Regions from separate parts of the Homo sapiens genome. Here region 1 is linked to region 2. The links come from fine-mapping of genetic effects on gene expression. A gene starts in region 2. The other region holds a variant in brackets. All regions are shown on one strand. Distances are between the middles of the regions. Region 1 overlaps CES4A (carboxylesterase 4A). Region 2 holds the start of B3GNT9 (UDP-GlcNAc:betaGal beta-1,3-N-acetylglucosaminyltransferase 9).

Region 1 (2,500 bases), 150 kb before region 2:
CTAGGTGTCGTGGCATGTGCCTCAGGAGGCTGAGGCAGTGAGCTGATATCTCCCACCTGAACCCAGGAGGCAGAGGTTGCAGTCAGCCAAGATGGTGCCACTGCACTCCAGCCTGGCCGACAGAGCGAGACTCCATCTCAAACAAAAAAAAAAAAGAGAGGAGATAGAGCAAAGGGGAATATAATATGGTCAACCATGTTGAGGGCTGTCAGGGCAAGTAAGATAATGACAGAGATTTAGCAAGATGGATGTCACTGGTGACCATGGCAGGATGGCTCTGATGGTGGGATGGGCACAGAAGCCTTGGCTGTTCATAATCCCAGTTCCCAGCTATCAGAGCCCTGGCTTTCCTGGTGAGGTGCTAGGTGTGGTTTACTAGACAGCATTCTAATACCACATTAGCTGCTGCCAAAGGAGTGTTGGAATGCTGTAGGGAAGGACTGGTGAAAGGGAGCAGGTGATGCTCTGGGAACAGGCTAGGCTAGGACAAGAGCAGAAGGGAGCAGAGGAACAGGCGAGGCAAACAGGGTGTCCTGCGCCCAATCAAATGGTCCAGGCCCAGCTGTTATGAGAATAGCCACCTAGGGGTTGGGCCAGCAAGGAGAAAAGGTGAGGTGGCCGGAGAGCCCATGCTACAAAAATACCCCAAATATCCACACAGTATAAGGCACTGGGCTGGGTGCCAGTACTCAGATGAATCTACCTCTATTCCTGCCTTTGGGAAGTGCATGGTCACTTGGGGAGAAAAACAGCCAACTGAAATAACTCCAACCAGGACATGGTCAACAGCGGACAGGAGGCCAGGCATGGTGGCTCATGCCTATAATCCCAGCACTTTGGGAGGCCGAGGTGGGCAGATCACTTAAGGCCAGGAGTTCGAGACCAGCCTGGCCAACATGGTGAAACCCCGACTCTACTAAAAATACAAAAATTAGCTGGGTGTGATGGCGCGTGCCTGTAGTCCCAGCTACTTGCAAGATTGAGGTAGGAGAATTGCTTGAACCTAGAGGCAGAGGTAGCAGTGAGCCAAGATCGTGCCACTACACTCCAGCCTG[G/A]GCAACAGAGCAAGACTCTGTCTCAAAAAAATAAGTGGACAGGATGTCGGGAGGCACAGAAGAGGAAGTGACCAGGAGAGGAGACACCACTTAAGCTGGGCCTTAAACACGAATAGGAGTTTGCTGGGCAGGGCAGAAGGCATTTGCTTGAGAGGACTGAGGCCCACGGGCTTGGAGGTGGGAGGCAAGGGGCCACATGTATCTACAGCAAAGGGTGGCTGGGACAGAGATGACTGGATGGAAAGGAGGGCCTGGGTACTCCGCGTATCTTAACTTTATCCTGAGGGCAGTGGAGAGCCAGGGAAGATTTTTGTTGATTTGTTTGTTTTTATTGATATATCATAGTTGTACATATTAGGGAAGATATGAAGAAGAGGAGTGACATAGTCCGCCAGAGTGTGGCCGAGGAGTAGGAGGAGTGTGAAGAGGCTGGGGTACTGTCCAGACCAGAGACGGTGGTGGCCTTGACATCTCCCCAGAGATGGGGATGGAGGGGAGGGACCATATTCCAGAGCTGTTTGGGAGGCAGAAGGGAGACTGAGGGGAGGGTGGGGCATGAAAGACAGGGAGGTGCCCAGGGCAGGCAGGTTCCTGCCTTGACAGCACCAACAGGAGCAGGAATCTCTCCACGGACTGAGGCGCCGGGCAGGGAGGGGATGGTTCCTGAGAGGCCAACCTGCCTCCCAGTCCTGGGCCCCGGGGCTGGCGGAGGCCTCCTGTACACGCACACGCACGCACATGCGCACGCACACGCACGCGCACAGACGCTGCCTGGATTTTGCTTTGGGTTCCGTCTTCTCACTGCGGACCCTGGATTGAAACGATCTCCCCGCGGCCGCCGCCGCTACCTGGTGCCCGCAGGTGCCTGCAGGAGTCCTGGGGCCAGCTGGCCTCGATGTACGTCAGCACGCGGGAACGGTACAAGTGGCTGCGCTTCAGCGAGGACTGTCTGTACCTGAACGTGTACGCGCCGGCGCGCGCGCCCGGGGATCCCCAGCTGCCAGTGAGTGCCAGGTCTCCCGCGCCCGCGGTCCCACCGCCGCCCACCGCCCCGCTCAGATCCCGGCCTTCTTCGTCCAGGTGATGGTCTGGTTCCCGGGAGGCGCCTTCATCGTGGGCGCTGCTTCTTCGTACGAGGGCTCTGACTTGGCCGCCCGCGAGAAAGTGGTGCTGGTGTTTCTGCAGCACAGGCTCGGCATCTTCGGCTTCCTGAGGTGGCGGGGCCGGTACCCTTTGGGACCGCAGCTGTGGCCAGAGCGGCGGGGACTGGGTGGGAAGGGAGGGGCGGGGCCTGGGGCGGGGATGGGGGGGGTGGGGCCGCGAGGCGGGGGCGGGGCCTGGCGCTCGGTGGAAGGGGCGGGCGCTCCATACCATCTGGATGGGGCGAGCTAACTCCAAGGAAGGGGGTGTGGTCGCAGGACTGGGTCTTAGAGGGGCAAGGCTGG
Region 2 (3,005 bases):
CGTGCAGCAGGCGCCACATAAGCCAGATGTCAGCGGCCGAGAGCCCGTGCACTACAACCAGCTCACGGTAAAAGCAGGGGTCGAAGGTGCTCAAATGCGGCGCGGCTGAAGGCTGGGGGATGCCAAAGGTGCGGAAGGCAGGGTGAGGCTCGGGCGTGAGCCGCAGGCGCTGCAGACACATGCCCAGAAAGACGTCGTCGATGGGGAAGAGCTCGACCTGCGCACAGGCGCCAGCCAGGCGGTGCAGCGTGGCCCCGGAAAGCACAAAGCCACCGCCGCCCGCGTAGGCCGGATAGGCGGGCAGGCCGTACACGGCCTCGGGGATGTAGTACTTGCTAGCCCGCGTGCGGATGGGCCGCGCATGCACAATTACGTCACCAGCAAGCAGGTCTTGCGCCGGGTCCCGCGGCGCCAGGAACTCCAGGAGATTTCCCACGTTCACGAACACATCTGCGTCGCCCTTAAAAACGAAGCGCACGTCGGGGCAGAAAGCTGAGGCCCAGGCTAGAAAGTGGATCTCCTTGAGCGTTAGGTTAAAAAAGGTGTCGTCGAAGGCCCAGAGCAGGATGTCCGCATACGCAAGGCTCTCGGCCCGCAGCAGGGCGCGCCAGTGGGTTCGCGCGCCCTCCCCAACTTCGTCGGCCCCGCCCGAGCCTGCGCCCCTGGGCACGCCCAGCAAGAACACGCGGCGCACCAGCGCCCCCTGCACGCGACCCTCCGCGCCCCACGTCTGGCGCACGGCTTGGCGCCGCTCGAAGTCCTCTGCCACCGACTTGACAGCAATAAGCAGGTCCGGGCGGCCACCGGGTGCGCCGTCGCCGCGGCACTTGTGCGGCTGGTTAATGAGCAGTGGAAACCGCCGCTGGTCCTTGGCGCGCAAATAGCGGGCGAAGTCAAAGGGTCCCGTAGGCGTGGGCGGCGCCGGTGTGTCCCCTTCGTAGGCCGGCGGGGCTGCACCCGCGTCGGGTAACTGGAACGCGCGGGGTCCGGGGGTGGGCCTCGGTGCCGCCCTCCCTCGCCCTCGCGGCGCGCTCGCCGTCGGGGCCGCGCCGTCGCGCTGCGCATAGAGTAAGAGGCCCAGGGAGGCGCCAAGGAGCAGCGTGAGCAATGCGTCCCTGCGTAGGCGCAGCCTCCTCCTCATCTCCGCGCGGCCTGCGCCCTCCCTCCCCTGTAAGGGTCGCAGTCGGCAGCAGGGGGCAGCGAGCCCCGCCCTCCCCAGCTGAGGGGGCGGGAGGCCACGCCCCGGGGGGGGCTCCAGCGACCGACGGTTGAGCCCCTTGCGTTGTTCTCCTCCTCCCGGCCGTGTCGCACCGCCGGGACCGGCAGCCTGAAGGGACAAGAAGTTCACCCATGTAGCCAACTCCCCCGCGGCCTCAGCTCCGGCCCAGGACTGCGACCCAGGGCCGGGCAGGGAGACTGGGAGCCTCGGCCCCTCCCCCGCCCGCCTCCCTCGCGCTGAGGCCGAATCCCTTCCACCCTGCCATCCCCTCAATGTCGGGCCCTGGGGTCCCGACACTCACGCTCGGCCCTCGGAAGTGGCGCAGCCCCGGACGCCCTGGCCTCCGGGGCTCAGCGCAGGGTCCGAGGGGCCGCCATGGACCGGGCCCGAGCCAAATGCAGCGTTGGCAGGAAGGGGGACCGGTGCCGTGCCACGTGACCCTCCAGCTGTGCGCGCCCAGACTTCTGGAGCTCAGCTCCGCCCCGGCGCCAGGAGCACTCCGGCCTCAGAGTGGGGACTAATCCCTGAGAGGGAGCCTCCTCACTCTCAGTCCCTCTGGGAAGGGCTGGTCTGGGTGCTCACACCCCAAATTCGCCTTTCTGGGGATTGGGAAGAAGCATCAACTCCCCTGGTTAGCTCCCCCAACTATCCACTCCCCACTCCCGCGTCTCTGGAGTGGGGCGGAGCCTGGGCTGCTAGGAGCCCCTGAGCAGGCCGGTTCCAAATGCGCATGAACCTGGCCACCATCCCGGGCGGGCCTCTCCTCAGCAGCCCTGATTCCATCAGGCAGGGTGCATACGCTGCCCCCGAGACACATGGCTGTCTTCTTACTCCTGGTTCTGCCATGCTCCCCACCCCCAGTAAACACACGCACGGGACAAACAAGGCAGCCCACCCAATCCTCAGGGCAACTCTGCCAGCAGCTCTCATTCATGCCCAGATGGGGACACTGGGGGGCTCTTCGGGGAGTTAAGTGACTTGCCCAGGATCCAAAGGCCAGAAAGCTCTGCCCCCAGGTCTTCTGAAATTCAGGCCAGGATTATTTTATCTGTCCTTGCCCCGCTCATTCATCCACTGGGATACAGAACAGGGGGCCAACCCAGTCTGCTTTAATTTCACAGGCAAGCACTTCAGCCTGTCTCCCCGGGGGCTAATGGACCTGAGCCCAAGCCAGGTGCAGTTCTGAGTCCCCTGGTCCCCAGCATAGCCTACTGCAGGTAGAAATGATCAGGCCTGTGCAGCTGCAGGTCAGACAGGGCTGGCAAGGATGGGGACAGCTTGGGAAGACTCCTGGCGGAGGCCTTGGCTAAAGGATTGCTCTGGGATGCAGGTGGACAGAGGTGCTCTGCAATGGAGAGCTAAGTCCTTGCGCAGCTCAGCTGCCAGCTCTCTCTTTCTTGGTCCCAGCCCATGTGGTGGAGCCTGGAATAGACAGCCTCTACTGGTCTCTTAAGAACCCAGCCCCATCCTCTGTCCAAGGGCTATATCTGCTCCTGACGGCTTCTTCCCACCAATGTTCAATCTTAAAAAGCCACCTCTCTGGCTGGGTGTGGTGGCTTATGCCTGTAACCTCAACACTTTGGGAGGCTGAGGTGAGTGGATCACTTGAGGTCAGGAAGTCAAGACCAGCCTGGCCAACGTGGTGAAACCCCCATCTCTACTAAAAATACAAAAATTAGCTAGACATGGTGGTGGGCACCTGTAATCCCAGCTACTTAGAGGGCTGAGGCAGGAGAATTGCTTGAACCTGGAAGGTGGAGGTTGCAGTGAGCCAAGAACACACCAC

Evidence for each region. PIP is the estimated chance that this variant, and not a neighbour inherited with it, causes the effect.
Region 1: its variant is the best candidate, but not a certain one, in a credible set for the expression of B3GNT9 in tibial nerve (GTEx, PIP 0.53).

What each region holds. Positions count from the first base shown.
Region 1 is chr16:66,998,722-67,001,221 of GRCh38, forward strand. It overlaps CES4A (carboxylesterase 4A), which reads left to right. Exons shown (of 14, transcript NM_001364782.1): 3 at 1,917-2,058; 4 at 2,136-2,269. Among named protein-coding and RNA genes, the nearest start is that of CES4A, 11 kb to the left of the region's middle. RefSeq lists an enhancer at 2,285-2,500. The variant G/A (reference allele first, on the strand shown) is at 1,056.
Region 2 is chr16:67,149,345-67,152,349 of GRCh38, forward strand. It overlaps B3GNT9 (UDP-GlcNAc:betaGal beta-1,3-N-acetylglucosaminyltransferase 9), which reads right to left and starts at 1,654. Exons shown (of 2, transcript NM_033309.3): 1 at 1,521-1,654; 2 at 1-1,327. The coding sequence starts at 1,141. RefSeq lists silencers at 1,010-1,439, 1,450-1,609.